Homo sapiens: one gene and its partners. The protein of the gene in region 4 interacts with the protein of the main gene of each other region in a biochemical or structural test. Each region holds a gene or a part of one and is shown on either strand. Other genes may lie near its edges. The genes, in order: NREP, EIF3A, RPS6KB1 and EIF3B.

Evidence for each region.
Region 1: the proteins of EIF3B (region 4) and NREP form a complex in vitro, tested with the Homo sapiens proteins (one study listed by BioGRID).
Region 2: the proteins of EIF3B (region 4) and EIF3A interact in far-western blotting, tested with the Homo sapiens proteins (one study listed by BioGRID).
Region 3: of the proteins of EIF3B (region 4) and RPS6KB1, one has a biochemical effect on the other in vitro, tested with the Homo sapiens proteins (one study listed by BioGRID).

Annotation. Positions count from the first base shown.
Region 1 is NC_000005.10:111,732,384-111,741,314, reverse strand, and holds part of NREP (neuronal regeneration-related protein), read left to right. Parts: intron 1-1,588; exon of another isoform or gene 1,589-3,011; intron 3,012-5,807; coding exon 5,808-5,885; intron 5,886-6,468; exon of another isoform or gene 6,469-8,931. UniProt on the Homo sapiens protein: May have roles in neural function. Ectopic expression augments motility of gliomas. Also promotes axonal regeneration. May also have functions in cellular differentiation.
Region 2 is NC_000010.11:119,032,349-119,036,927, forward strand, and holds the end of EIF3A (eukaryotic translation initiation factor 3 subunit A), read right to left. Parts: intron 3,921-4,579; coding exon 3,691-3,920; 3' UTR 1,322-3,690; downstream 1-1,321. UniProt on the Homo sapiens protein: RNA-binding component of the eukaryotic translation initiation factor 3 (eIF-3) complex, which is required for several steps in the initiation of protein synthesis.
Region 3 is NC_000017.11:59,895,066-59,903,996, forward strand, and holds part of RPS6KB1 (ribosomal protein S6 kinase beta-1), read left to right. Parts: intron 1-8,931. UniProt on the Homo sapiens protein: Serine/threonine-protein kinase that acts downstream of mTOR signaling in response to growth factors and nutrients to promote cell proliferation, cell growth and cell cycle progression.
Region 4 is NC_000007.14:2,370,442-2,379,372, forward strand, and holds part of EIF3B (eukaryotic translation initiation factor 3 subunit B), read left to right. Parts: intron 1-1,335; coding exon 1,336-1,408; intron 1,409-2,231; coding exon 2,232-2,354; intron 2,355-4,086; coding exon 4,087-4,165; intron 4,166-4,947; coding exon 4,948-5,086; intron 5,087-6,508; coding exon 6,509-6,634; intron 6,635-8,247; coding exon 8,248-8,325; intron 8,326-8,692; coding exon 8,693-8,801; intron 8,802-8,931.

The DNA of each region.
Region 1 (8,931 bases), on a different chromosome or scaffold from region 4:
AGTTAGGCAGAATAAAACATGTACACATGCAGACACATACTATTTAATTGGCAGAAAGATTATGAAATATACCCCTTTGCTGCAGAAAGAATTGATTATACAGGTTGGACCCGTGCTGCCCTAGTCGGCTTTCCTAATTGCAGGAGACAGATACGCATACCCATCCTGTTAAGTTATAAAGGACCCGTGTGTGCATTCTTTAACCCTATAGGACCCCATCAGGGATAAAGAATAACATTACAGTTATGGTCGTTAACAACCAAACCATGCAACATATCTTCATGGCAGATTTCTGAAAATGTATGTTAACTAATGAAGTAAGCAGTATTTATGTGTGTGGTGTATTTAGCCTCTGCAAAAAGATATAATCCTGCCTTTAAGTATCATTCTCATAGAACAGTCTCCCCAAAGAAATATTGATAAAGACAGTAAATGAACAGAGGAAAATACAAATTTAGAAACAGGTAATAAGTAGATATGATTCAAATTTTACCTGCAATGTAGTAGAAGTGATAGGAAACATGTCCGAGAACTTTTAGATTGATTCTGTATTTGGACCATGCCATTGAAAAATAAATAGCAAATTTTGAAATGAAAAGCTTAAAAAGTGTTTGAAAAATAATTTAAGCAATAATCTAGTTTGCATATTTTTTAGGACCTTGGGGGACTGGTCTCTGAATTTTCCCACATTTCATTTTTCTCATTTGGAGCACTAGTTGTCAGCTATTAATAATAGTTTATACTAAGCAATAATTACCGGTGAGCTAATTACTTTATAGACTTTAAAAATGCAGTTATTTTTCATGATGCACTGTCCAAAGAGTAAAACAAGCCTCAAAAGAAAGGAAAGAAGGAAGGGAGGGACAAAACCCTGAGTATTTTATTTCCAATTTGTATGCTGTGATAGAATATTGAAACTTACCCAACTATCAATACATTCAAGAGAATCAGTACGAAATAGCACATTTTCACTATAAGTAATATTTAAATATATAGTGGGTTTAAGTATATTAATTATACCCAAAAGCATAAAATTGGTATTTCCTAAGAATTGATCAAGGATATCTAAATACAAGTCATGATTAGTATATTTTAAACCAGTGTGGTTCTTTATGACGTTCTGTTGTTTTTCAACCTAATTGTCAGTGAGATAAATATAGCATCATAGAAAAAGATGCATTAACCAATATATTCAGTGACAAGTATAAACACTCAAACTTCCCCAGAATTCAAACAAAACTGTTGCATATTCTCCAAATTAAAGTAACAAAATTTTCCTTCCCTCTACTTTTTTTTTTTTAACTAGCATTTTTGTTTTCTCAATTGTTGAAGGTACGATTTGCTTTTCTGATTTTCTAATAGACTTCTGGAAGAATAGTATTCTAGAGGGTTTTGAGGATTTTATTTGGGCAAAAACAATTGTTTATTGTATACATGGAAAAAGCAGTTTTAAAAGAAGACATACTTTTTGTGAAGATTAATGCAAACTTTGGTTTGTTTAATGAAACAACAGTTTTGAGGTATTCCCATACCCAGAACGCTTAAATTTTCTAGATGCAAACCACCGAAACAACAATAGAGAATTCAATGAAGTGTCAAAAAGAAAGTTAATTTAATTGGCCTTCATGAAAAACACAAACTTGAATTCAGACAATGAATGAATGGAATGCAGTATCAGCCACGTGTCCATGTTTGGAGTGTCAGTTGATGAGCACCAAGAAGAATGGGCAGCTTTACAGTTCAGCAAGCACAGATGGACTCTAGATAGATGGATCAGCTTACCAGTTTTCTGACCCTCATATTATCAGCACTCAAAAGCTTCAGTGATAGGGTCATTGTCAGTTCCTAATATTCTGAACTAGTTAGAAAACTGAGGGCACAGAAACTCATGGGTTCATGTGGGTCTTGTTACTGCTGTGGCCCCTAGGAGCTGCAGGGAGACCTGGCTACAGGGCCACTTGCCTGCATGGAGCTTATTCTGCACTTATCCCTCACCCTTCTATCATCTTCCTTGGCTGATTCTGACAGCCATCAAATGCCCTCCCAGATGTGCTCACTGCCACCCCCATTTCCTTTGTTGACAGCACTACTGGATATTATGCTAAATGTTGGTTTTGTTTGTTGTTTAGTCTGTTGATAGATGTTCCAGCAGCTATTACATTTGACTTAACCTATATATTTCTTTTTTGTTGTTGCCCTTAAAAAGCACACTGTGTTTAGTTTGCGAGGGCTGCCATAACAAAGTGCCACAGACTGGGCAGCTTACACAACAGAAATTTATTTTCTAACAATCTGGACGCTGGAAGTCTGAGATCAAGATGTTGGCAGGGTTGGTTTCTTCTGAGGCCTCCCTTCTGGGCTTGTAGATGGCTGTCTTCTCCCTGTGTCTTCATATGGTCTTTCCTCTGTGTATCTGTGTCCTAATCTCTTCTTAGAAGGACATGGGTCACTTGAGATTAGGGCCCACCCTGATGATGTCCTTATTTTAACTTAATTGCCTCTGCAAAGATCCTGTTTCCAAATACAATCACATTCTGAGGTATTGGTGGTTAGGACTTCCCCATATGAATTTTGAGGTGATACAAGTCAGCCCATAACACATTTTTAAAAGTAAATTTTTGTGGATTGATCACCCCTGCTGTACCTGCCCCACCCCCAGACGTGAGCATCTAGAAGGCAGAAACTCTGTTTCTCTTGCAATTCCCACAACCTAACAGTGTCCAGCACTTTGCAGCTATTTCATGAACTCTTGCTGCATGAATGCAAAAAAGGTTGGTAAGAAACTTGAAGTTGAAAAGTGGCACTATTTCTGACTGCCAGAAGTAGCACCTGGCGAGTAGACTAGAACATGTTCCGATGAGAAGAAGAGGCAAAGAAAATACAGTACATTTAAACCGAGACAGCTTTTGACAGAAAGGCAAATGATTGTTGCTTGGGATCACCCATTCTCCACATCCAGCACTGGGAATGGAATGGAAGTTCAGGCCCTTGCGGAATACCAAAGGTCAGGTCTGAATCATTTGAGAGCAAAGGTAATTAATGATTGTCAATAGATCTTTTCTCTTAAGCTCTTCACTTTAGAGTCTCAAAATACTGCAGGTATAAGAAAGAACAATGCTGTAATGCAGATAGATCATATTTGTTTCCAGTAATTTACCACGGTTTCTTAAAACTAGCTGTGCTTAAAAAAATGAAAAGTTTAAATATCTCCTTTAGGTACTATGTCTAGGGATATGCTGAGTTCTTAGATACCAGCCAAGCAGGTTTTAAGAATGTAACTGAGACTCCTCTGTCCCTGCCATTTTTGGCTTAAGGTTCTGACTTTGAAGGAGATTGGAAAACTACCAGAAGGCCAAAGCAACGTTCATTTTTCTAAAAGTATACAATGATTACTTGATGATTCAAATACTAAAAAATGCCTAATGTGCTAAAAATGCCTAATAGTGAAAAAAAAAGCCTTGGTCAGTGTAACAAATATGAAGTAAGGGAGAAAGTTTCCTTAGTCATGTGTGTTTTGCTGTCAGATATTCATGTTCCCAAGTTCTTTGGCAAAAGTCATTGGCTTTTTTTTTGTTTTTGTTTTTGTTTTTTTTTTTTTTAGCAAATGGAGAGTTCTTAGAACAACAGATTGTTAGAATAGGTGTAATAATTTCTGAAAGGCAAGCTATTTTCCCCTACAAATTAGACTTTGGTGGTTTTAGTAATGATGCTTAGAAGTTAAATGTTAAAGCAGTGTCATTTCGTTAAAATGGAATATCCCAGAAAAGCACAAGAACGCAAGAATGACAATACTTACCTGACCTTGCTTTTCTTTGCTTCCTGTGCCTACAAAGTTTTTACATGTACTTTTATCAACGTTTTTGGTTTCCAACAGAACTTAATTTCTCACTAATATTTTAAGACTGTACTTGAAATATGATTTTTAAAGTGGTAATATAGAAATGTAATCACTTTATATCCATTTATATGAAGTGAATTTAACAGTAGATTCAAACTTGGGGTCCCCTAAAGTTGAGCCCAAACTGGGCTTTTGTGTGCTGTGACTTTGTTATAAGTCTGAAAAAAGCTTGTGTATTTGAGATTATTTTGTTTTCTTCACCCATTCCTGGATAAAGGAAATGTCAGAAGTGGCTGCTTGTCCCAAACAAGGCAGATGGTGGATTACTTTCTGAAGGAGCTGGGCACAGGAGAGGAATATGTGGAAAAGTAAGGTGGTTGGGGTGAGGGGAACCACATGGCTCAGAAAACAGACCCAGTCCAAAAAGAAAATAGTTCTAGCTCTTGCAGAATGAGCTCTCTTTAAGACCCAAACGTGGGTGGCGGCTGTGGACTGGTATAATTTTGAGGGAGTGGTGGTAGGCGATTTGCATTCTGGGATAATGCGAGGGCAGCAGGATAGTGGAAGGAACTGAAGTTTAGAATCTGGAAACCTAGTGTGAGTTTCAGTCCTACCCTACACTACCTGTGTGACTTGGGGCAAGTCGACCTTTTTGAGTTTCAATTTCTTCATTTGTTTAATGATAAGACCAATATTATTGGCTTATCATCAGGACAAATTAAGTAATGTATGCAAAATTGCTTTGTAAGCTAGGATGTGCTACAAATGTCACTGGTGTAGAGCAAAGATAGTTAGTTACTGTTCAATTATTCCGAAGAGTGAACACACTTAGCCATCTACATTTCCTACCCTAGATTCCCTGACAAAATGGATTGATCGGGGTATACCAAGCATTACAGTCAACTCAATGATTAGGTTACCTCAATTACGGCTTCCAAAACCAAAATGTAAACACACATCTAAGTCTGTTTGTTAATCTGTTAATGAGGTGTGACTCTTAATTGTTGTTTATTAAATGTGAGGCTTATTTATTGCAGAATTTGGAGAATCTGATCTGGAGGGAATCTTACCTAATTTCACTCTGCTTTCAATCAGAACTATATTAAATGTGAATTAGCCCTGACAGATGGTTGTTGGATTCTGTTTCTAAATTTTTTAAAGAAGATTTCACAGTTTTTCTCTAATTTCTTTTAGTAATTTGACAATTCTTATGCTGAGTTCTTCCTTAGAGCTGACCCAAATCTTAGTTGTAATTTTAAGGCCTTTCCCCTCTCCTGTCATTACTTGAAGATGGAGAACAGCTGGTCGGCAACCTTATGCTAATCATCCTTTGTATATTTAAAGAAGAGTTACTCAGTTCCACTCCCTCGCTCCACCCCCTCCCACCACCGAATTCATCAGCTAGTATTCTCTGAATCATTCATGGTGATGACACCTATCTCCCGCCCCTCCCTCAGACACTTGGCTGTTTCAGGCAGCTGGGCAGAATGTGTTGTCACTGGCCACATGGACTTGGAGAGAATCTGGGCTGCTGCTTTCTTTCCTCTTTTATTTTATTCATAATCTTTGGCCTTCTAATAAATGATCAGAATAACCCTTAACAGTGTTTGATGGAGTTTTGCAAGGATACTTATAGAATCCTTTGAAAGTTAGACCTCCCCGATGACTTAGTGCACTCAGCCAGACATACCATGAAGCTGCTACTTTGCCTGCTAAAAATAACATTGATTGATATCTCTGCTTTATTGGACTTAATCTTGGAAGACATCGAGCTGAAACTCTCCTGAGTGCAGTGCGTGTTCAGAAGCACACTAACAGTTTGAAAGAGTTAATGGTTTCCCCAGTGCTCTAAGTGGTAGTCGGGAATAAGTAACCATTGAGGAGAATTGAGCTCATTAAGGTTATCCCGTGTAGTTTCAGAGTGGATCCTGTTTTTAATCTGAATGTGTATGCTTTTGTGTCTCTATAGGTTTATTACCCAGAACTCTTTGTCTGGGTCAGTCAAGAACCATTTCCAAACAAGGACATGGAGGGAAGGCTTCCTAAGGTAAGATCCTTAGATGCCATATTGTTAACACTATTTTCAATATAGAAACAATTGTTTTAAAATATCAGAGCTTTTTCATTTGAATACCCATTATAGGCTGCTATAACAATCCATTAATCTGATACTATGATGACCTTGGAAATAATGTACTTTTAAAAAATATCCTAAAGTCCTATGACTTAAAGTTCACATTATCTTCCTTCATAAATGAAAAATTTTCATTTAAAACATGGAATCAGTTTATCAAAGTACAGTTTACAGGTTTTAAGTCTGTTCCATTTCTGGTTAGACAAACTCAAATACAATGATCAAACTAAAAGATTTCTTAAAAGTATGATGACTATTAATTGTCTGCTAATGAAGTCTGAAGGTCTGATAAGATTATCCATGAAGCAAAAGGGAGGAACAAAAAAACTGTTACATTTCTTTCTTCTAATTTTTGAGCCTAAAAACCATTTTTTATAAACGTGGTTTCATTGTTCTGACATCTTAGGTGTGGCAGTTCTCTGCCTCAAGAAAATTTGTAAAATTTATATTTTAGATTTTAGCATAATTTCTGAAACAAACAATAACAACTACTTACCAGTTTTTACTGTAGATACTGGACTTTGCCTCTTAGGGTGAATACTTGTTTGACTTCAAGCGGGGAGAGTATACTTTTTAACCAATGACTTGCTGATTTTGCAGTTAAGAAAGAAAAACAGAATCCACTGAAAATAAAATTTCTATTTGAAAGTTTCATAAGTGTAATTGACTAACGGTGAGTCCTCCCCCAGCTGTTACTGGTATTTCAATGTTTAAGAAATTATTTTATTTACACTAAATAGTATCAACAATTCCCTATCTTATACTGGCAGGCAGAAACTGAAGAGGTTGTATCAACTGGCAGTTTGCACTGAAAGAAAACAATCTTAAATCACTTTTAATCTTGCAGAGCATTTTTGAAGGTCAAGGTTGAAATCACTGGCAGGAAAGTAGGTGAACAAAATGGTTTGACCCTGCCTGAACTAGACTTGCACTGATTTGTAGAGCTGGAGTGGAAGAGAGCTAAAATAGTAGCGCTTTCCTTAAAAGACACCCACACCCCACCACCTCACCAGCAGCACACCAGCGGCACGAGCAGTATAACCACAGACATTCGTCACTGTGCCAGATCAGGGCATAATTCTCTTAAGGCAGCTGAGGCCTTCACATTAGTTCTTGCCTCATTCAGGCATCCAGAGGTCCTCTCTCTTTGATACTGGTGACATAAACCAGAGGGGCAAGACTAGGCATAGTTCCTTGATGAGTTCAGTGGTGCCTCACCGTACCCTTAGAAAGCCAGCCCTGCTGTGCTAGGTCTTGTCTCACACAAAGACATGCTCCCAGGGGTGGGCACCGTGGATCATGGTATTCAGGTCTTCTGCTATTTTAAGTTCTTTCTTCTCTAAATATGTGAATAATATTTTAAGCATAGTGTTATTTGTTCTTTTTCCAGAAGTTCCCTTCTGGAAAAGCATATCTTTGTATAATTGTAGGAAAAATAATCTTGACTTACTTGGTCCAAAGCACATTATTAACTGGGGATTAATTTCCTAGTAGTCATCTGTCGGGAGGGCTGATCCACCCCGAGGCACATTAACTGGCGTGACTTTCAGGACGGCGGGGCTGTGGGAGCCACTGGACACATCTGCCCCCCAACCCCTAGCCTCTTGAATTACTCAAGTCCCTCAGCTCTGTTGGCACAAATACGTGCTGGATGATAGAAGAACCGTTTTTCCCATGGATGAACTTTTTTTGGCTTGAATTCTTACAAGGCCTGACTTCTGGATCTGGAGAAAGAAGACTTCTTTGTGTCCCATCTTCAAAATGCCTCCTCCACTTGTTGCAGAAGCCTAAAATTCCTTTAGTTGGGGCAGAAAGCCTATTATTATTTAAAAAAAAAAAAAATAGTGGGAGGGTGTGTGGATTGAAATCAGTCAGGGGAAGAGGATTGAAATCTAGTAAATGCAGGACTCCATAGGGAGAACGCACAGAACTCTGTCTCCTCAGGAGCACCTCTCTCCACGGGCATGGTGGGCTCCAGGCCCTCAGGGTGCTTCAGTAGCACACCTCCCTGTGGGCCCTACTACCATTGCCTCATGAGGGTCCAGTCTGTATGCTTGTCTTCCACACAGCAAGTTAATGAAGGGTGAGATGGGCAGGGACTGTTACTGTTTCTGTTTCAATCTCTCTCTAAGCTTGAAATCGAATAGAGTACTCCAGCCATAGTAGGCACTCAGAAAATGAATAATTAATGAAGAAATGTATATTATCTGGGACCTTGAAACAGAAAAAATGGTAAAAATGGTAAATTCAAATCTGAAATAATCGTCACTTTCTTTTTTTCTGGAAGTGCCTCTTCCCAAATCCCTAGCTCTTCCTTTTGTTTTGTTGTGTATGTTTCATGGAGGTAGAAGATTAGTACTGAGACTGAGATTTAAATAGAGAGATACACTAACGTTCTGTATATTCACTTTTGAACAGAGTAAGTCTGAACTGGAGCAGTTTTAAGGCAAGCTGTGTAAAGACTATAATTGTTGAGTTAACATTTATCAACTTTTGGTTTTCCTTCTTTTCTTGCCTGTGACAATTAACAGCCATTGAACTCTTCATTTGTCCAAAACCTAAGTTTGTCCTATCCTGAACCATGGTAACTGGTTGACTGTGGGGTGAGGTGGGGTCGGGCTGGCAGCATTATTTTAAAGACACTGGGATTACAGTGGATTTCCTTTTTTTTTTTTTTTTTTTAAATTTTGGGACTGTGTACCAAGATTCCAAGATTGAAATTATTTTCACAACTGCAAGTAACTACCCAATATTATGCTTTTGGAAATTGAATCTAGACCCTTAAGGGTGTGTGAGTGGTGAATTATATTTTTATTTAATTTTCTGGTTTGGTCCCATTGGTATTTAATGATACCAAAACAACCTCTAAAATCACAACCTAAGATTGGAATATTAAAGTACATCATGGTTATATATGTGCAAAAAATGCTGTATGCTCTCAAAGTCCGAGACTTTTAAG
Region 2 (4,579 bases), on a different chromosome or scaffold from region 4:
TAGCCAGGAAAGACAAATAATCCAACGCTGCTAGTCTTAACCCCAGACCAGAGAGAACTGCAGATCTGACTGGGCCTAAATTAAGTAGCTTAATGAAACCATGTAATTACTTGTTCTCCTTTCTTTTGCTATAGAAAATCTACCAGTTTAAATGAGCTTCACCTTCTGGGTGAAGTTTCTAAGGTCAACATGAATCCTCTTACCTCTCTCACTGCTCGTGTTCTGCCTTTTCAAAAGGACCACTATGAACAGATCAGCGCATTCTCTAGGCCAAAAGGGCTAGCCAGGTGGCAAGATCAATTTAGCTACTTTGTATTTTCAGAGTCAAATTACAGACGGTTTCCAAAGGTCTTGAGCATGGGGCTTTGGCATAGCCTCAATATATGGGAGTCACTGTGATGAGATGTGCCTAATGTTAATTTGATATTCTGACATTGCTATTTTACCAGAACTAAGAACATATTGAGCTGGAGCTTCTTGAGGGCAGGAGAGTATTGGAAAAGGAATCCAGAAGACCCTCTCCACTACTCAGGCAGCCACTATTCATCTATTTTTAAAGTACCCCATTTTCAGGCCGGGTGTGGTGGCTCATGCCTGTAATCCCAGCACTTTGGGAGGCGAGGCGGGGGTGGATCACAAGGTCAGGAGACCAGCCTGGCCAACATGGCGAAGCCCCGTCTCTACTAAAAATACAAAAATTAGCCGGGTGGTGTGGTGGGCGCCTGTAATCCCAGCTCCTCAGGAGGCTGAGGCAGGAGAATTGCTTGAAACCAGGAGGCGGAGGTTGCAGTGAGCCCAGATCACGCCACTGCACTCCAGCCTGAGCAACAGAGCGACTCTGTCTCCAAAAAAGAAAAAAAGTACCCCATGTTCAGCCCCTGTGCCAAATTTGCCTAGGTTTTCCAGCTGACAATGAATACTGGGAGTTAAAACGCAGAGTATTACTATAGTTAATTTTCTAGGGTTCTCTTATGAAAAGTATATGTAAACACATTCATTTAAAAATCCTTGGAACTCAATGTGGAACTTTAAACATTTTGCAAAATTACATTTAGAGAAACCCAATTTTTCAAAGTTTAAGAAATATACAAAGTATGACAAAATTATCTTCATAAGAACATGCTGCATACTTGCCTAGTAGCAAAACAATACAGGGAAGAGTCAAAAGGGCTTCTCCAACTGTAGAGGTACAGATTGTCTTAACCTGTTCTTTTCTGTACAGACTTAAAATTTCTAGTGGCTTTTATTTTTCTTTGTATTTTAATTTTCCTACAAAGTCCTTTTTGGAAGTTGCAGAATTATTAGCTTTGATGAGAACAACTTTTGTCATAGATTTGATTTATTAAACCAAAATTATACATATTAAAATTATATCACAAATATATATGCTTCCAGACAAAGAAAAGTTTGTTAGTCCTGATTTTCTAATCGTAGCCACTCAAGGAACAGTCCTTTCATAGTACCCCAAGTATTTCAATTAGACTTATAAAAGTATAAGTCAATCTATGGTCAGTGTCTTTGGTTAAAAAAAAAAAAAAACACAGGCAGTTCTTTACATAAAAACGTCCCACACGTTATAGATGCCAGCCACCTCCTGGTAGTCACTATGGACAACTAATGAGATGCAAAGTCTTTTGGACCGATGATGTCTCTACTACTGGATCTATCTGTATTAACAGCAATGTTACTCTCAATGAAACTGCAGAAGCCACCATGAACATGGAAGACCACCTAGCAGATCGGTGAGTAGGCTGCTTGTTCAGCTTTCCTTTAACACCTGTTGGTAAATACTAATGGGAGTAGACAGAGTTGTATGGCCTGGACAGTGGAAACCAAGAGCAGGATCGCAAAGTAACAGCATCAGACTCTTCTGCCCTCCTCTTGCACTTGGGTTCTGACTCCCAGAACAAAGAACTTGGGAGAACAGTACGGGAGACTGAGCAGAAAGGATGGGTTTGCTGACTCGCCTTGAAATCTAACTCTAACGTAGGCAGCAGTAACTCGTCTGAACAAATCTGATTAAATAAATTCTTGGGGCTTACCTGTGATGTCACACATACAGATCTACTCTCCAGGAAGCAAACTCTTAGCAAGTTACTGCCCCACTTGTAATCACTGATCTGAAATTCTCTTGTTATGAAAGAAAAGTCCTTCTCCCCACGAAAGACCTTTAAAGACTTCTACGTATTTGAAATACCAGATACTAAGGTGTTTAAAATGATTTCTATCATTGGTAACATCAAACAAAAATAGCTGCATCTGGTTAAGTTAAAAAGCATCAATACTCCCTCTTCTGGCCCTACAGCTGTACCAATAGGAATTCTCACCACTACTCAATAACAGAAATAAGTGCCTACAGCCATGATGAATTTGTAACATTTTCTCAAATTAACTACGATTTTTCTAATTTCAGGTGAAAACCCAAGGTGGTACTTCAAACACGCACATGCACACACAAACTCAGAGGACAGCGTTACAAGGAAACTAAGGAATTCCTGCATTAACAAAGGAAGACATGTTAGGGGGACATCCTAGCCACATATGCTTTCTTTGTTATATTTAGGTTCATTTTCATTGATACTAAACACAGACATTTAATGGCACTGATAAAAATTCAAGTAAAAAAAACTCAACTGAATATGCAAACTTACCATTATAAACAAAATACTATAACCACAAATCAACACTAAAACAAATTCTGTAAGTATTTTATTTATCACTGAAGAAAAAACACAGCAGCAAGTTCTGTGTTGGCTTCAATGAGACCAAATAGTTCATCTTTAACATAGCTACTGCGCTCCAAAATTGAAGTCAACACAGTCATTACTACAAATTACTTGTTGAAAGAATCTATCTTCAAAAGAAAGAAAATTAGGAAAGAGAATTTAAACGATTCCTCCAAACCATACATTTATAAATATTGTCATATTTAAAATGCTTGAAAGGCATGAATTCTCCATTAATGGAAAAGCAGTTTGCTATTGGCAACAGAAAAAAACTCAGCGATAATTTACCAAATGCTTTAAAATTTAAAAGCTATACTGTTTGGATTCACACTTGCGCAGTAATCTTGTCATTACAACAACTGCAAATTGCTTTGTACTCACCTTCTCTCAAGTAAAATCTAAAGAAAACCCCACCGTATCCAATGTTTGTAATGTTTACTTCAAGTGAATCTAAAAAATTTCTAAATTTAGTTTATGGTAAATACCTCAAAATACCTAAAATAGGTACGTATCAACCACTTAAGGGTGTGAAAATTGTTTCAGATTCACTGCTTTAAAGGGTCTTCAAATATATTTTAACAGAACCTTACTTCATTCCAAATTATTATCAGATATTTCAAAATCAAAAAAAAAGTATCAGTTCTATACCAAGATAAAGGTGTTACTCAATACCTGAAGGGTCACATTTTAAATTTATTTTTTAGTTTTTCTTTTTTGTCAACAAATGATTGATGAAATAATGCAACACCCTTAAATTCCAGAAAATGGCATGGTTTTTCCAACCTCCTGTGGATATGGTGCATGATCAATCTATTATATAGGATTAATACAAGTTCATGCTTTTTGTGTTATGGTGAAACAACATTAAAGAATCCAATTTAGATTGGTTGAAGCACAAGTATAATAATCCTTGAATGTGATCAAACCTATTTAAGACACCAGTTTAAATCCATTATCTTGAGACTTAACGTCGTACTGTGGTCCATCCATCTTCATCAGTCTCATTTTTAGTACGACGGAGAGATTCCCTATCTTTCTCAGCTCTCCATGAGGCCTTCTCTTTTTCACCTTCTCTTTCTCGGTCTCGGTCTCTTTCTCGGTCTCTTGAAAGAGCTGGGGGAGGAACTCGACGAGGAGGGTCCCGCTCTTCCACCCGGTCATCTTTCCTGTCATCAGCACGTCTCCAAGAACTTACTAAAAAGTTTAATTAAAAAAAAAAAATTAAGTTAGTACTATATTCTATTGGCTCAAATTACTCAAAATTCCTGTACTAAAGATTGTTAAATACAGAAATCATTGTTAAATACAGAAATTCTGTTAAATTCTGTATTGTTAAATACAGAAATCATAATGAAAGCTCATACAATTTCTGACAATCTTTAACATACAAATGTACAGATAAAACTCAAAATCTGAAAACAGGCAGAAACCACTAGCCTGGGAAGGACTACAGTTAGTATAAACCCGTAAGACAAGGTGGCAAAAATCTGGCTGAATGAAAATTTTATAACTGAAAGGATTTTTGGCTCTTGAAGAATTTTAACAGCAAATTAACCATACAAAATACAGGAGTTTTTAAAGTTATGGCTATGAGAGAAAAATTCTCTCATAACAGGATGTCAAGACATATGGAAAATTAATTTTTAAAAACCAAGAGAAAAATGAGGATTTTAAAAATGAAAAATACATATATTTTAAAACAGAATAAACTTCTGTTACAATTTCAGAGAAAATGTTTCTACTTTGTGCTTAATCTGCCAGGAAGCTGCTTTTAAATAACAATTTTTTTCATTTTTATTAAGTAAACTTTATATATATTGCCTGCTATCCAATTTAGTCTACTACTGTACTTT
Region 3 (8,931 bases), on a different chromosome or scaffold from region 4:
GCTGGAATGCAGTGGCGTGATCTCAGCTCACTGCAACCTCTGCCTCCTGGGTTCAAGCGATTCTCCTGCCTCAGCCTCCTGAGTAGCTGGGACTACAGGCGCGTGCCACCACACCTGGCTAATTTTTTGTATTTTTAGTAGAGATGGAGTTTCACTGTGTTAGCCAGGATGGTCACGATCTCTTGACCTCGTAATCTGCCCGCCTCGGCCTCCCAAAGTGCTAGGATTACAGGTGTGAGCCACTGCGCCTGGCTTTTTTTTTTTTTTTTTTTTTGAGACAGGGTCTTCCTCTGTCACCCAGGCTGGAGTGCAGTGGTGCGATCTCGGCTCACTGCAGCCTCTGCCTCCCAGGTTCAAGCGATTCTCCTACCTCAGCCTCCCAAGTAGCTGGGATTACAGGGGCGCGCCACATCACCTGGCTACTTTTTTTGTATTTTAGTAGAGATGGGGTTTCACCATGTGGCCCAGGCTGGTCTTGAACATCTGACCTCAGGTGATCACCTGCCTCAGTCTCCCAAAGTGCTGGGATTACAGGTGTGAGCCACCCCACCAGGCTTTTTACTTTATTTTATTTTAATTTTTTTTGAGATGGAGTCTCACTGTGTAGCCCAAGCTGGAATGCAGTGGCCTGATCTCGGCTCACTGCAGCCTCCGCCTCCTGAGCTCAAGCGATTCTCGTGCCTCAGCCTTCCGAGTAGCTGGGACTACAGGCGCGCACCACCATGCCTGGCTAATTGTTTGTATTTTAGTAGAGATGGGGTTTCACCATGTTGCCCAGGGTGGGCCTGAACTCCTGAGCTCCAGCAATCTGCCAGCCTTGGCCTCTCAAAGTGCTGGGATTACAGGCGTGAGCCACTGCATCCGGTTGGTGTGTGCTTTTTCAATGATGTTTTCATGCAGAATTCCAATTAGCCTCTTAATCGAACATAATGGTACACTAGTTACAATTGGAAACAAATATGAGATTACTTTCATTATTTATACCATATACCATACTCTTTATCAGTTATGTTGGTTCTCTATGACAGTGGCTTTGGAGCAGGGCAGGGGAGAAAACTGGATAGGAAGGTGCTTTATATCTTCATTAGTTGAACTGATAGAATTTCCAGACTGGGTTTATTTTATTTTATTTTTTTTTCTTTTCTGAGACAGAGTCTTGCTCTATTTGCCCAGGCTGGAGTGCAATGGCGCTATCTCGGCTCACTGCAGCCTCCACTTCCCGGGTTCAAGCGATTCTCCTGCCTCAGCCTCCCGAGTAGCTGGGATTACAGGCACCCGCCACCAGGCCCGGCTAATTTTTGTATTTTTAGTAGAGACGGGGTTTCTCCATGTTGGTCAGGCTGGTCCGGAACTTCCAAACTTGGGTGATCTGCCTGCCTTGGCCTCTCAAAATACAGGTGTGAGCCACCGCACCCAGCCAGGTTTATTCTTTTTTGAAAGTACAGTACTCTGTTAAAATTCCTGTGTAAACTGGGACTTTTCTTTTCACTTTCTTGTGTTTCAAGAACAGTAGGTGTTCCAGGGCTTTTGTCCTGCTGGGTACAAGCAAGTAGGATTTTGAGAAGGTGTGAGGAGGAGGTCAGAAAAATTGGTGGAAATAGGAAAGAGAAAGAAATATGGCCCCGATTTTGGGGAGAGAAAGTCTGGGGAAAGAGCAAAGGCAATTAAAGAGGATTTTGAGGAAGAGACTTCTGTAAAATATGTCTTAGCAACACTTTTTGGAGTTGAAAATATTTCTTTTTAGTGTGTTATTTTTTCTAAGAGGTGCCTCAAGATGGATAATGGAAGATTTGGAGTACGATTGGGTTGACAATCCAAGGAGATTCGGTGACATCCAGATTACCCTGAAATAAAAAAAAAAAAAAATTCTGGAAAATGAGAGAAGTTTAGATTCTTAGAAAATCTTCTGATAGTTTCTATTTGTGAATTTATAGACTTTAATTTATTACACAAAGTTTTTAAACATTGGTGCATATCAGTTTTCCTCATTTTATAGTAAGGAAACTGAGGCATAGGCCATATGATAGCCAAAGATCACATAGTGGTAGTGTCTTCTGACTTAATTCAGCAGGCTTCATTGCACAGGTTCTTCATTGCATTTACTAGTTGTGTTTATAATGTTCCTCTTTGTGGTATGTCAAAAGTGAATTCAGATTCCTTTGGCCATACTCACTCTGTGACCTGGAGTAAATTCCTTAATCTCTAATGTTTTCTATAACATGAGGGTTACATTAAATAAGTACGTAAAGTACAGTACTCTCAAAATATCCTGGCGTATTAAGCAATTAGCTAGTTCACAGAAATTCAGCTTGTCTTGTCATTGCTAAGGAACCAATCATTCAGGTTTAACCTCGTATACCTAGAGACTTAATAATTGCAGTTAAACTCGAGGTGCTGTATTTTTACAACTGTAGTATCATAGTGTGTATTTTTTTTTAAAACTAATTGATCCCGTTTAGAGAGATGTGCCTTTCAAGGTACGTTACAGAGTGACTATGCGTTAGTAAATATAGGTATTTCCATAGTTTATTTAATTAGAGATTAAAAGATGAGACTAAATGATACATTTATGGACAAAGTTGAATATCTGCCACCTAACTTAAAAAAGATCCTGTTTAAGGCCGGGCACAGTGGCTCATGCCTGTAATCCCAGCACTTTGGGAGGCCGAGGCAGGTGGATCACGATGTCAGGAGCAGGAGACCAGCCTGGCCAATATGGTGAAACCCAGTTTCTACTAAAAATACAAAAATTAGCCAGGCATGGTGGTGCACACCTCTAGTCCCAGCTATTCAGGAGGCTGAGGCAGGAGAATCTCTTGAACCTGGGAGGTGGAGGTTGCAGTGAGCCAAGATCATACCACTGCACTCCAGCCTGGGCGACACAGTGAGATTCCGTCTCAAAAAAAAAAAAAAAAGATTCTGTTTAAATATCTCAGAGGAATATAATCAAAGCCTATTGGTAAGAGGGGAGTTTTTGGGCGGAGGGTGTCTTTTTTGTTTGTTTTTTTGTTTCACTGTTGATGATATCATTTGGGGCAGTAAATTGAAACTAAGGAAAAGTTTTCCTTCAGAGAATTTAGATTGCAAAAATGTTGGAATCTTCTCTGCTCTCTATAGCATTAAGAGTAGTAGAAAACTGTAATGCAATTTAAAAAATTCTCACTTTGTACTCTAATTCAAAATTTGAAATAATCACGCAGGCTTACTGTACAAGTTTCAGATTGGGACATCAGATTTTTATTGAGTAAAAGGTTTAAAATTTTTGAAAACCAAAGTGCTATATAGATAGTATATACTCAAATATTCATGATTATGAAAAATTATAGAAAAAATATCAATACTTATCTTGCTTTGTAATATATACTTACTATAAAGCAGCAACTTTTTTTTATTTTTTATTTTTTTGAGACGGAGTTTTGCTCTTGTGGCCCAGGCTGGAGTGCAGTGGTGCGATCTCGGCTCACTGCAACCTCTGCCTCCTGGGTTCAAGCTATTCTCCTGCCTCAGCCTCCCGAGTAGCTGGGATTACAGGTGCCGACTACCACACCCAGCTAATTTTTTGTATTTTTTTGGTAGAGACGGGGTTTCACCATGTTGGCCAGGCTGGTCTCAAACTCTTGACTTCAGGCGATACACCTGCCTCGGCCTCCCAAAGTGCTGGGATTACAGGCATGAGCCACCGTGCCCGGCCAGCAGCAACTATTTTTAAATAGCCCAAGAGTTTAGGCAAAGTTCTACCCTTTCTTCCATTTCCTCTAAGTTACTGAATCTTGTCAATCCTAATGAACACAGCAGACATTGGATAGGCCATAAAGCTTAAGGCAGCAGAAAAAAATTAGGAGTAAAGAGTTTCCTGGCCAGGCGGGGTGGCTCATGCCTGTAATCCCAGCACTTTGGGAGGCCAAGGTGGGCAGATCACCTGAGGTCAGGGGTTCGAGACCAGCCTGGCCAACATGGTGAAAACCCCGTCTCTATTAAAAATACAAAAATTAGCCGGGCCTGGTGTCAGGCACCTGTAATCCCAGCTACTCGGGAGGCTGAGGCAGGAGAATCACTTGAACCTGGGAGGCAGAGGTTGCAGTGAGCCAAGATCGCGCCATTGTTCTCCAGCCTGGGGGACAAGAGCAAGACTTCGTCTCAGAAAAAAAAAAAAAAGGAGTAAAGAGTTTCCTGTGAAAGAGAGTTGTCAGTATGTATTACATAATGTTATTTGACACTTCTTGTGTGAGCCTTCTAGAGGTAACACTGAGTAGCAGGAAAGATTTGTGCCTCAAATGCTTCTGTCCTAGACAGTAACGGTAGAAGTTATTAGCACAATATGCAGGTGCCAGCATTATAGGTCTGGCCAGCTTAGGAAATGAAACATAGCTACAGGGCGTATCTTGTGAGGTGGCTTCAAAATCATGGTCCAGTCTTAACTACTCTGTAGTCTTTAATTTAGAATTAAGTAAAACTAACATTAAAGAAAAAACAATTATGTAATACCAGTTTTATCACATCTGGAAGAAGTTAGTCTTTTGTCATAAAAGTGAAGCCATCCTAGGCGATTACGTAGAGCAACAAAGACAAAAAAAACCTTTAACCATGACCACCCCCATATCCCACACATAAAAGAAACTGTATCCAGTTAAAATGGTGAGAATTGGTTTTTTCCCCCTTGATACTGCCCCATCTCTTTGCCTGGGTATAATCATGAAGTGTACATTCCTGGTATTACATGTTATCGTGATTTGGTCACACCATGAGTGAGTTATGACTAAAATTTTGTGTTTTGGGGGCATTTGAACATTTATTCTATAAGAATACTATCAGTTTTTGGCTGGGTATGATAGCTCGTGCCTGTAATCCCAGAACTTTGGGAAGCTAAGGTGGAAGGATCATTTGAGGCCAAGAGTTCGAGACCAACCTGGCCAACAAAACAAGACCCTATCTGTACAAAAAATTAAAAAAATAAATAGTGGGCATAGTAGCACACAGCACACGCCTGGCACTAGTGACTCCAGAGGCTGAGAAGAGATGATCACTGGAGCCCAGGAGTTTGAGGATGCAATGAGCTATTATCCTACTACAGCACTCCAGCCTGGGTGACAGAAACCTAATTGCTAAACACACACACACACACACACACACACACACACACACACACACACACACACACACACACACCCCTATGTGTTTTTGTTGTGTATGTTGGCTGTGTACTGGTAGTTTTGAAGAAAGATATATTCACTTTAATATCTTAACTACTCTAAAGTTTTGACATGATTGCTTAAAGACTTGTAATGTTTTAGAGTCTATTTTCTTTTTCTTTTTTTTTGAGATGGAGTCTCACTCTTGTCATCCAGCCTGGAGTGCAATGGCGCGATCTTGGCTCACTGCAACCTCCACCTCCTGGGTTCAAGCGATTCTCTTTCCTCAGCCTCCTGAGTAGCTAGGATTACAAGTGCCCGCCACCAGGCCTGGCTAATTTTTGTATTTTTAGTAGAGGCGGGGTTTCTCCATGTTGGCCAGGCTGGTCTCGAACTCCCAATCTCAGGTGATCCGCCTGCCTTGGCCCCAAAGTGCTGGGATTACAGGCGTGAGCCACGCGCCTGGCCTGGAGTCTATTTTAAATTAATTAGTATCCTTTCGTGTAAACTGAGAGTTCATAATCAGATTAGATTGATTTTAAAGCTATATATTATAATGTCAGTAACTGAAATTCTGCTGCCAAGTTTTTTGTTGTTTTTTGTTTATACAATTCAGTGACTTTGAGTATATTTACAGAGTTGTGCAGCCATCACCAAAATTAGGTTTTAGAAATTTTTACCACTCGGCCGGGCGCAGTGGCTCAGGCCTGTAATCTCAGTACTTTGGGAGGCCAAGGCAGATGGATCACTTGAAGTTGGGAGTTCAAGACTAGCCTGGCCAACATGGTAAAATCCTGTCTCTACTAATAATACAAAAATACCCAGGCGTGGTGGTGCATGCCTGTAATCCCAGCTACTTGGGAGACTGAGGCAGGAGAATCACTTGAACTTGGGAGGTGGAGTTTCCCATGAGCCGAGATTGCACCACTGCATTCCAGCCTGGGCAACAGAGTGAGACCTTGCATTTTTTTTTGAGACGGAGTCTCGCTCTGTTGCCCAGGCTGGAGTACAGTGGCGCGATCTCGGCTCACTGCAAGCTCCGCCTCCCAGGTTCACGCCATTCTCCTGCCTCAGCCTCCCGAGTAGCTGGGACTACAGGTGCCCGCCACCACGCCCGGCTAATGTTTTGTATTTTTAGTAGAGACGGGGTTTCACCGTGTTAGCCAGGATGGTCTCGATCTCCTGACCTTGCAATCCGCCCGCCTCAGCCTCCTAAAGTGCTGGGATTACAGGCGTGAGCCACCGCGCCTGGCCGAGACTCCATCTTAAAAAAAAAAAAAGGAAATTTTTATCACCCTATAAAGAAATTTTGGGGCTGGGCATGGTGGCTTACGCCTGTAATCCCAGTACTTTGGGAGGCCAAGGCAGATGGAGCGCATGAGCCTAGGAGTTTGAAATCAGCCTGGGCAGCATAACAGCACCCTGTCTCTGAAAAAAAAAAAAAAAAAAAAAGAAAAAAAAAGAAACAGAGTTTTGGCCAATTTAGTTACTTCTGATTCTCACCCTCAGCCCCAGGCAACTAACCTATTTCTCATCTCTATAGATTTGGCTTTTCTAGGCCCAGTGTGGCTCATACCTGTGATCCCAACACTTTGGGAGGCCGAGGCAGGAGGATCACTTGAGACTAGCCTGGGCAACATAGTGAGACCCGTGTCTCTACGAAAAATAGAAAAAAATTATCCGTCTTGGTGGTGTGCGGCTGTAGTCTCAGCTGCTTGGAAGGCTGAGGTTGGAGGATCGCTTGAGTCTCCAAGGTTGAGTTTGCCGTGATCCTGCCACTGCACTTCAACCTGCGCAACAGAATGAGAACCTGTCTCTAAAAAAAAAAAAAAAAAAAGCTTTTTCTGGACATTCCATATAAATGGAATCATATAGTGTATGACCTTTTATATTTGGTGGCTTTCACTTTTTTTTTTTTTTTTTTTTTTGAGATGGAGTCTCACTCTATCACCTAGGCTGGAGTGCAGTGGTGTGATCTCTGCTCACTGCAACCTCTGCCTCCTGGGTTCAAGTAATTTTCCTGCCTCACCCTCCTGAGTAGCTGGGACCACAGGTGTGCGCCACCACACCTGGCTAATTTTTGTATTTTTAGTAGAGATGGGGTTTTGCCATGTTAGCCAGGCTGGTCTCAAACTCCTGACCTCAAGTGATCCGCCTGCCTTGGCCTCTCAAAGTGCTGGGATTACAGGCGTGAGCCACAGCATAAAGTTTTTGAAGATCATTTATGTTGTAACATGTATCAGTACTTCATTTCTTTTTAGGGCCAAATAGTTATTCTGTTTTATGGCTACAGTGCATTTTGTTTATCCATTTACCGGTTGATGTTCATTTGAGTTATTCATTCAGATGTTCAACTGAATTGTGAATAAAGCATTTTTTGTTTCTTTTTTTTTTTTTTTTGGAGATAGGGTCTCACTCCGTTGCCCATGCTGTAGTGCAGTGGCGTGAAAAAGCTCGCTGCAGCTTCACCCTCCTGGGCTGAAGTAATTCTTCTGCCTCAGTCTCTCATGTAGCTGGGACCACAGGCACGTGCCACCATTCCCAGCTAATTTTTTGATTTGTTGCAGAGATGGGGGTCTCGTGATTTTGTCCCGGTTGGTTTTAAACTCCTGGCCTCAAGCAATTCTTCTGCCTCTGCCTCCCAAAGTGTTAGGATTATAGGCATGAGCCACCTCCTCGCCTGGCCTGAATAAACCTTTTAGAAGGCTGGGTGTGGGGGCTCATGCCTATAATCCTAGCACTGTGGGAGGCTGAGGCAGGTGGATCGCTGGAGTCCAGGAATTCCAGACCGGCCTGGGCAACGTGATGAAACCTGTTCTCTACAAAAAATGAGCCGATGCTGGGCATGGTGGCCTGTATTCCCAGCACTTTGGGAGGCCGAGCTGGGTGGATCATGAAGTCAAGAGTTTAAGACCAGTCTGGCCAAGATGCTGAAACCCCATCTCTACTAAAAATACAAAAATTAGCCGGGCGTGGTGGCGGGTGCCTGTAATCCCAGCTACTCAGGAGGCTGAGGCAAAGAATTGCTTGAACCTGGGAGGCAGAGGTTGCAGTGACCCGAGATAGCACCACTGCACTCCAGCCTGGGCAACAGAGTGAGACTCTGTCTCAAAAAAAAAAAAGAAAAAAAAAGAGCCGAGCATGGTGCTATGCACTTGTAGTCCCAGCTGTTCGGGAGGCTGAAGTGGGAGGATCACCTGAGTCCAGGAGGTTGAGGCTGCAGTGAGCCATGATCGCACCACTGCACTCCAGCCTGGGTGATAGAGTGACACCCTGTCTCAAAAAGAAAAAAAAGAAAAAAAAGTTTTTATGAACATTATTGCCCAGATCTTTGTGGAGCATATACTTTTCATTTCTTTTGAGTAGATACATTGGAGTAGATTTGCTGGGTCATGCAGTAGTAAGTCTATGTTTAATTTTTTAAGAGACGAACTTTTCCAACACGGTTGCACCATTTTACATTCTCACTAGCACTGTATGAGGGTTCCAGTTTCTCTCATCCTCCCCCAACTTACTTTTCCTCTTTATCATCTATTATCCTAGTGGGTGTGAAGTAGTTTCTCAGTGTGGTTTTGATTTGCATTTCCCTAACAACTAATGATGTTGAACATCTTTCCATTTGCTTATTGTTCATTTGTATATTTTCTTTGGAGAAATACCTATTCAGATCCTAGCTCATTTTTCAAAAATTGGGTGTGTCATCTTTTTCTTTATATATTTTATTTATTTATTTTAGAGATGAGATCTCACTTTAGAGTTCTGCTGTCAAACTCCTGGCCTCAAGCAGTCTTCCACCTTGGCC
Region 4 (8,931 bases):
CTGCACCCCAGCCTGGCGACAGAGCCAGACTGCGTCTCACAAAAAAAAAGAAATTCCTGAGTTTTCCCTCTAATAGAAGTATTCTTCTTTCTTTTATGTTAAGAAAGCTTTAATTGACATGTAGTTCACATGCCTGAAAACACCCCTTTAGAGTGGTGAACTGGTTCAGTGGTTTTTCGTGTGTTCAGAGTTATGCAGCCACCACCACTCATTTCAGAACGTTTTCATCGGCTGGGTGCGGTGGCTCCCCCGGGGTGGGAGGGAGGATAGCTTGAGGCTAGGAGTTTCAGACCAGCCTGGGAAACACAGTGAGACCCCATCTCCACAGATAATTTTTAAAAGATAGGAAAAAGGCCGGGCACGGTGGCTCACGCCTGTAATCCCAGCACTTTGGGAGGCTGAGGCGGGGCATCACAAGGTCAGGAGATCGAGGGTTTAGTAGAAACCCCGTCTCTACTAAAAATGCAAAAAATTAGCCAGGCGTGGTGGCGGGTGCCTGTAGTCCCAGCTACTCGGGAGGCTGAGGCAGGAGAATGGCGTGAACCCGGGAGGCGGAGCTTGCAGTGAGCCGAGATTGCACCACTGCACTCCAGCCTGGGCAACAGAGTGAGACTCCGTCTCAAAAATAAATAAATAAATAAATGTTTTTGTCACCCTACAAAGAAACAACATACCTGTTAGCAGCCTCTCCGCCCAGCTCCTGGCATCACGAATGTCTATGATTTCCCTATTCTGAACACACAGCTGGAATCGGATACTATGCCACCTTCTGTGTTTGACCTCCTTCACGGAGCACAGCGTTCCCACAGCTGGTCCACGGTGCTGAGTGTCAGCAGTAATCTCTTGTTGGGTGGACCCCGTTTCTTGGCCTCCTTCCTCTGTTGATGGACATCAGGGCAGTTTTCCCTCAGACTCCTCGAGTAGGGCAGGACTTCTTGAAGGTTATGGCTACAGGACACCCCACTGTCTGAAGTGGTTTACCCAGCCCCATTGGTGTGCCTTTAGGGCCCTCAGGACCCTGGCCTGCAGCCTGCAGTGTGGACCCTGGGACTGCTTGTGCCCAAGTGTGGCGGGCAGGGCGGCTCCTGGAGGTGGGATCTGGGTCAGAGTTACTTCATGCATGTCCAGTGGCTTCCAGTAGACGTGGTGCCGGCAGTTCTCCAGCCTTAGAACCGTCTTCCATCCTGAGGGCTGTGGCTTTCATCACTGCACATGCTCGTGTGTGAACCAGGCATGCACACTGAATCTTTCATTGTGACGTTGATCTTTGATTTAAACCTTTTCTCATATTTTCACTGTCCAGAATGTCACCCCTTCCCCCTTTTTTTTAAACAGGGTGTTGTCACAAATTTTGAAATTTTCCGAATGAGGGAGAAACAGGTACCTGTGGATGTGGTCGAGATGAAAGGCAAGTTGTATTTTAGTCACTTTGAGGCGAATGGGGCCTACGTGCTGTTTTACTCTTGGCTTTAACACTTCCATGCGAGGGGTTGTCTGAGCAGCTGAGTCAGGACTGTGAGCCCTCACCATGAATAGTCATCTCCAGGTCACAGAACGTGTTTAGAGCCTGGGCAACATAGTGAGACCCTCTCTGTACAAAAAACAAATAAAAAAAATTAGCCAGGTGTGGTGGTGCGCACCGATAGTCCCAGCTGTTTGAGACGCTGAAGCGGGAGGATCACTTGAGCCCAGGAGCAGAGGTTGCAGTGAACTGAGATTGCGCCCCTGCACTCCAGCCTGGGTGACGGAGCAAGACCCTGTCTAAAAAAAAGAGAAAAGAGATTGAGCCTGTGTTCTTGTTTGGCTTTTTGTTTTGCCATGGAGAAAAGGAGGAAGGAAGGGTTAAAAATAGGTGAGAAAATGGGAAACATGGCCGCCCTTCCAGGCAGGGAGACCGGAGGTCAGGATCCCACTGTAGGTGCACACTGGGTGCGAGGGAAGCGGCATCCACAGCTGCTGACAATGTCGGGCTCCTGCGGTCCTGCTGTGGGTGTCCTGCTCTCAGGAAGGGAGCAGTTTCACGTAGGTCACTCCACACAAGTGGAAGCAGCTGTCTCTGAAACTCCAGGAATGTGCACCTTTCCTGCTGTTGCTTGCTCTCCCGTCCTTTTAATGAACTTTTACACGTCGGGGGATATTTCTCTGTGGTTGAATAGTGAACATTTTAACTGATCAAGAGCACTATGTTCTGAATTGACCAAAAAGGGAGGGGTCTGTTTTGTGCATTTTAGAAACCATCATAGCCTTTGCCTGGGAACCAAATGGAAGTAAGTTTGCTGTGCTGCACGGAGAGGCTCCGCGGATATCTGTGTCTTTCTACCACGTCAAAAACAACGGGAAGATTGAACTCATCAGTAAGTAACCTGGTCCCTTTCCTCTTCTGAGTAGGTCAGCACAGATGATGACCCAGTCGCTGCCCAACAGTGAGCATTTGACTGGCCTAGGACCACTGCTGGGCAGGCCGGGACTCGCCTATGAATGGGGTGTGGCCTCGGCTGATGGAAGTGAGCGATGGCCTGGAGGTGCCGCCTCCTTGCAGGGTGTCTCTCTGAGCCCCGTTGAGCCCTCACGTTTAAGCGAGTATTTCCAAGGCTTCCATTCTCTGCCATCATCTCAAGTGAAGCTTTTTCTCTTCTGGCTGTAGCTGCTGTCCCTGGGCTTGGGGTCACTTCCTGTGGACATACTCCTGCCAGTCCCCAGTCTGGGTCAGGTGCCTTTGACCAGGGTGCGCAGAGCTGTTGCACACAGCTGTACTCTGCCCCCGTGCACCCGGTTCCAGGGGTGCCACACTGCACCCACCTGGGGCTCGCTCCTCACAGTGGTGCGTGGGCCCTCGCCTGTCTCACGGCACCTGCTGCCTGTGCCCTCAGCTCCTCACTTCATCCTGGGGTCTCTGCTCAGCACAGAGCCCGGTGCCCGCGGGGATTGAATGAGCCATTGCTTGTTGCTTCATAGGCGTGGGGTGTGTGTGTGTGGTAGCCAGGAGGTGGCGATGGGCTGTGTTCCTCACACAGGACTCTGGCTGCCAGCTGCCCTCCTGCAGAGCCATGGGTTTGGCTCTGTACCAGGAAGGGGTTGGAATCTCCTGGCCGCACCTTTCGCAGCATGATTCTGTGAGGAGTTTAGTTTTCACTTTGCTAGAGCTTGGCAGGGTGCGTGGTGCCCTCAGTTGGCAGTGGATTACAAGATTGGCTGTTTCATTAATTCTGGTTGATAGAAACATATGGGCAATTGCAGACTGTCCAGAGACTTGTGTAAGTCTTCTAGGTCATAAAACATAGGCAAGCAGAGGCACCTTGTACCTTCCAAACATGCTGCGTGACACGCCTCTCCTGAGGTTTGGCATGGACGCTGGGGCCACCGCATGGGCTCCATCCCATGCCCGTGGCTGTTGGGGTTTTCGCTTGTGCAAGTCTGAGACCCCTGCCCCTGCCAGGGTGCACTGCCCTCCCACATCTCCTCCCCTCCTCCCCACGTCAGCCTGCCCCATGCCTCTTTTTTGGATGTACCACAGGCTGAGGGGAGAGAGGCCACAGGTTGTCAGCTCTGTTTGAGATGCAGGGAGCATATGCTCTGAGGGGGACTTGAGCCAGCCCCAGCTGGCCTTCACTTCTCACTGTTCCAGCGGCTCTGCCCGAGATCCATTCCGGAAGTAAGAGTTAGTACCTGCAAAGATGATGACTGTAGTCAGTTTCAACAAGCATACAGCTTATCCAAAGACGCCTTGTCGCTAGGAGAGTGGCTTTGGTCTTTTGGGGTCACACGTCTCTGACATCTCTCTGTTGGGGTCCCTGCAGCAGTGAACATTTGCTGTAAAGGGAATTCTTTGTCCAGTTACCTCAGGAAATAAGATAGTATTGTTTTGAAATACCCCTGTCGCATCTTCTTTTTTTTCCCATTTAAAGTATGGATCATGACTTAGGGGGTACTTGGCGATGGACTTTGTAAAATTGTTTTCCGAGGTGGTCCAGCATTACCAGCTCTGCCCTCATGGGCAGCATGAGCACGGCCAAGTCCTCCAGCCTTGGCTGCCCCGGCACTGTGGAAGCCCTCGCAGCTCGTGACAGGCGCGCTCTTTCCTTTCAGAGATGTTCGACAAGCAGCAGGCGAACACCATCTTCTGGAGCCCCCAAGGACAGTTCGTGGTGTTGGCGGGCCTGAGGAGGTAGGTGTCTGCGCTCTGAGCCTGTCCGCCCTGTGAGTAGCGCTCTGCTGTGGCAGAGACCCCTCAGGCGCCTGCACCCGGCTTCTTGGTAGAGAGAGTATTGTGCGCTGAAAGGGTTGCCCCAGTGTCAGTGGATAGGACTTCATTGAACCTCTGCAGACCCACGGTACTCCAGGACTCAGGCCAAGCCCGCACAGAGTGAAATAAGCGCTCCCAGATGCTTTCGTGAAGTGACCAGGCAGACCTGTCTGCGGGTTGTGGTTCTCTGTGGTTAAACAAGTGCCTTCCAGCCATCCAGTAACCTCCCCCCGGGGGTCAGTCCCTTGTCTTCTAGTGGGAAGGGTATTCGTTACACAGCTGTGAGGCTGCCTTACCTTTGTGGTTGGTGTCACGGTGTCGGTCTCAGCTGTGTTCCAGCAGTGTGTCGAAATCATGGAGAAGCTTCCAGCTTTCTGCTCTGAGTTAAAAGAATACCCTTTTGTTGCTGCTCTCCCTTGCTTCATTGTCCACACTTGCTACTGTATTTTTGGAGGCTTACTTAGCCTCAGATAACATTTCCAGTAAAAATAATATGATGGCAGTCATATGTAATACTCACTGCACACTCTGCATCTGTGATTTGGTAAGTCTCACAGCGGCCACCAGAGGCTGTTGCTGTGCTTGTTTCCATGTTAACGCCGAGGCTGGCTCCCTGGGGACCCCATGCCGCAGCACCTCTCAGGAGTGGGATGCCAGGAGGTATGCGTCTCCATGAAGCCTGACGGTCCTGTCTGTCTTTGCAGTATGAACGGTGCCTTAGCGTTTGTGGACACTTCGGACTGCACGGTCATGAACATCGCAGAGCACTACATGGCTTCCGACGTCGAATGGGATCCTACTGGGCGCTACGTCGTCACCTCTGTGTCCTGGTGGAGCCATAAGGTGCAGGCCTGTGGGGCATAGTTTTGACTGTGGATAGAAGCAGGGAGTGCTGGCTAGCTGCTGACTCTGGTGCTGTCCTGGGACCTCAGGGAAGGGGCACCAAGCCTCTGTGTTGAACAGAAGCCTTGGCTGGTGTTAGTGGCAGGAGGAGGAGGATTCTGGGTTGTAGAAGAGGTGGCGCCGAGTGCAGGAGCAGCCCCTGCTCATGGTTGCGGGGAGGTGGGGGGTCTTACCCTGGGCCCAGGGACCCCTGAAAAGGAGTGAGAATGTCTGCAGAGAGGAGTCGTTTCCTTTGAAGTCTGAACAGAGTTCCATAACCGCAGACATTAAGATCTGTTTTGGGGTCAGTGGTTGAGTCCAGCTGCCGCGTTACCCACAACTCGTATTCCAAAACTGCTGGTTAAGTTTGTCAAGGACTTTCAGTATTTAGTGACTTGTAAAAACATTGATGGAGGCACTGATACTTGAACTAGTCCATGCCAATAGAGCCTGTGAAACCAAACGCGGGTAATTTTGTTTAATGAGATACAGAATTTGTAGGAATATCAACTTCCCAAATGTTACTGCAAGTGTCTAGAGTTAGAAATCTTCGCATTCGAATCAGGATATGTTGATCACAGCCTGTGTCCAGGTATGTTCAGATGTCACTGCGGTGGGGCCTGCCTTGACACTTGAAATCACTTTAGGCCAGGCACAGTGGCTCACACCTGTAATCCCAGCACTTCAGGAGGCAGAGGTAGAAAAATCACTTGAACCCAGGAGTTTGAGACTAGCCTGAGCAACATAGCGAAACCCTAGCCCCATTAAAAAAAAAAAAAAAAAAAAGACTTTTTAAGCTGTTGACCACTCTCCTTGAGTTATGAACACTTAGCTTCCAAAATGCCGGCCTGCAACAAGGAGTTTATGCTGAGTGCCAGTGAAGGCGCCCTCCTTCATGAGAGAGGCCTGCCATGAGGAGAGCGGAACTAGGCGGCGTGTAGTGATGCAGTTAGCTTACATCCAGCACAGGGCTCCGCACAGCTCACACCCGGCCCAGGGCTCAGCAGTGAGTAGTGCTATGCAGTTAGCTTACGTTTGGCACAGGGTTCAGTCCAGTTTAAATCCAGCACGGGGTTCAGCGGCGCAGTAGTGAGGCAGTTAGCTTACATCCAGCATGGGGTTCTTATTGCCAGCCAGAATGTGCAGGCCTGTGCTGTGATGAGCGCTGCTCCAGCTGCTCCGTGCCCCGCACTCCGGGTCGGTTGCATAATGGAGGTGTCTTGCATTGACTGCCCACCTACCCTGCTGTCAGCTCAGCACAGGCAGAGCTTTGTTTGCTTCACACGTGTCCCCGATACCCAGGACCTTGTTCAGCAAGTGACATAGTCACGGTTGTGGCTCTCTGACCCCTCTGTGTCCTGGTGTGTCCCTGCCCTGGCCTAGGTGGACAACGCGTACTGGCTGTGGACTTTCCAGGGACGCCTCCTGCAGAAGAACAACAAGGACCGCTTCTGCCAGCTGCTGTGGCGGCCCCGGCCTCCCACACTCCTGAGCCAGGAACAGATCAAGGTCAGCATGCCCCCACCCCCGGGTGCAGGGCACATGGAGGCAATTGTGGCGTTGAAAAGGTGTCAGTTTTTTCTGTTATTGTTAGGGTGGTGACTGGGGGATAAAAACGTGACATTTGCAAGGATTCTTTGAAGAGACGCAGGAACAGTGAGAACTGAATGGAATAGAACAGCTTTAGGATAGTAACTTGAGGCTTTCAGCTTCTTTAGGGAAGTTTTGCATGAACCCGAGGGGTGGATAAAAAGATGCCAGGGCCATTAAAAAGTCCTGCTGGGATTAGAAGCGGCTTGTCTGGGATTTACATTATTGTGGTAAAATAGGCCGTTGGTCTTAGGTCAGAGCAAAGAGGAGGGTTAAATCCCAGGGAGAAAGTCCGTCTCAAAGTGAAAGATGGAGGAAGGAGCAGGCACGAGCGCTCCTGGGATGCTGTGTTGTGTGAATGACCCTGGGTGTCAAGGAGGAAGGAGCAGGCACGAGCGCTCCTGGGATGCTGTGTTCTGTGAATGACCCTGGGTGTCATGGAGGAAGGAGCAGGCGCGAGCTCTCCTGGGAATCCGTGTTCTGTGAATGACCCTGGGTGTCAAGGAGGAAGGAGCAGGCGCGAGCGCTCCTGGGATGCTGTGTTCTGTGAATGACCCTGGGTGTCATGGAGGAAGGAGCAGGCGCGAGCGCTCCTGGGATGCTGTGTTCTGTGAATGACCCTGGGTGTCATGGAGGAAGGAGCAGGCGCGAGCTCTCCTGGGAATCCGTGTTCTGTGAATGACCCTGGGTGTCAAGGAGGAAGGAGCAGGCGCGAGCGCTCCTGGGAAGCCGTGTTGTGTGAATGACCCTGGGTGTCGAGGAAGGAGAAGGCGCGAGCACTGCTGGGATGCCGTGTTCTGTGAATGACCCTGGGTGTCATGGAGGAAGGAGCAGGCGCGAGCTCTCCTGGGATGCTGTGTTCTGTGAATGACCCTGGGTGTCATGGAGGAAGGAGCAGGCACGAGCGCTCCTGGGATGCTGTGTTCTGTGAATGACCCTGGGTGTCATGGAGGAAGGAGCAGGCGCGAGCTCTCCTGGGAATCCGTGTTCTGTGAATGACCCTGGGTGTCAAGGAGGAAGGAGCAGGCGCGAGCGCTCCTGGGAAGCCGTGTTGTGTGAATGACCCTGGGTGTCGAGGAAGGAGAAGGCGCGAGCACTGCTGGGATGCTGTGTTGTGTGAATGACCCTCGGTGTCATGGAGGAAGGAACAGGCGAGCGTTCCTGGGATGCTGTGTTGTGTGAATGACCCTTGGTGTCATGGAGGAAGGAACAGGCGAGCGCTCCTGGGATGCTGTGTTGTGTGAATGACCCTGGGTGTCATGGAGGAAGGAGCAGGCGCGAGCGCTCCTGGGAAGCTGTGTTGTGTGAATGACCCTGGGTGTCATGGAGGAAGGAGCAGGCGCGAGTGCTGCTGGGAAGCTGTGTTGTGTGAATGACCCTGGGTGTCATGGAGAAAGGAGCATGCGAGCGCTCCTGGGAAGCTGTGTTCTGTGAATGGCTTTGGGTGTCATGTCATGTTGGCAACTCTGAAGATTGCATTTGTGCTTGTTGCTTTGAATGTTAAATCCTGAGTGATGGGTCTTTTGTTTCAGCAAATTAAAAAGGATCTGAAGAAATACTCTAAGATCTTTGAACAGAAGGATCGTTTGAGTCAGTCCAAAGCCTCAAAGGTGAGCCTCATTCCCAAAATGAGGGCTGTGCTGTGACATCCGCCATCATGGCAAAGGCGGGGCTGCGGGGAGCTGCTGTGTATGTGCTCAGAGTTGCCTCTGCTCCGAAGACACTGGTTCTGTTCCCCCCCAGGAGGGATGCACTGGGGAACTGGGGTTGGCACGGGGACTTGGAGTTGGTGACCTCACTGCTGCCTTGTGGGTGGGGGGCAGCGTTGGGGGAAAAGTGAGAATGAATGGACTAGCCATTCCTGCTTGAGTGCCTCTGTATGCTGTCCTTCTGGCACCGTCCGCCTGGGTGTGGGCTCTTCGCGATGGGGAGGCACTTGTCTTACCAGTTCTGTGCTTTCCCCAACCTCATGCATAGGAATTGGTGGAGAGAAGGCGCACCATGATGGAAGATTTCCGGAAGTACCGGAAAATGGCCCAGGAGCTCTATATGGAGCAGAAAAACGAGCGCCTGGAGTTGCGAGGAGGTAACTTAGAGATCCCTCAGTCCCCAGGAGCTGGCCCTTACGCTGCCCCTGGGCCCTGGTGCCCGCGGACTCCTGCGTTCCTTCCCACTGGCCTCGGCGGTGCCACTAGGCATGTGCCCCCATGGGTGAT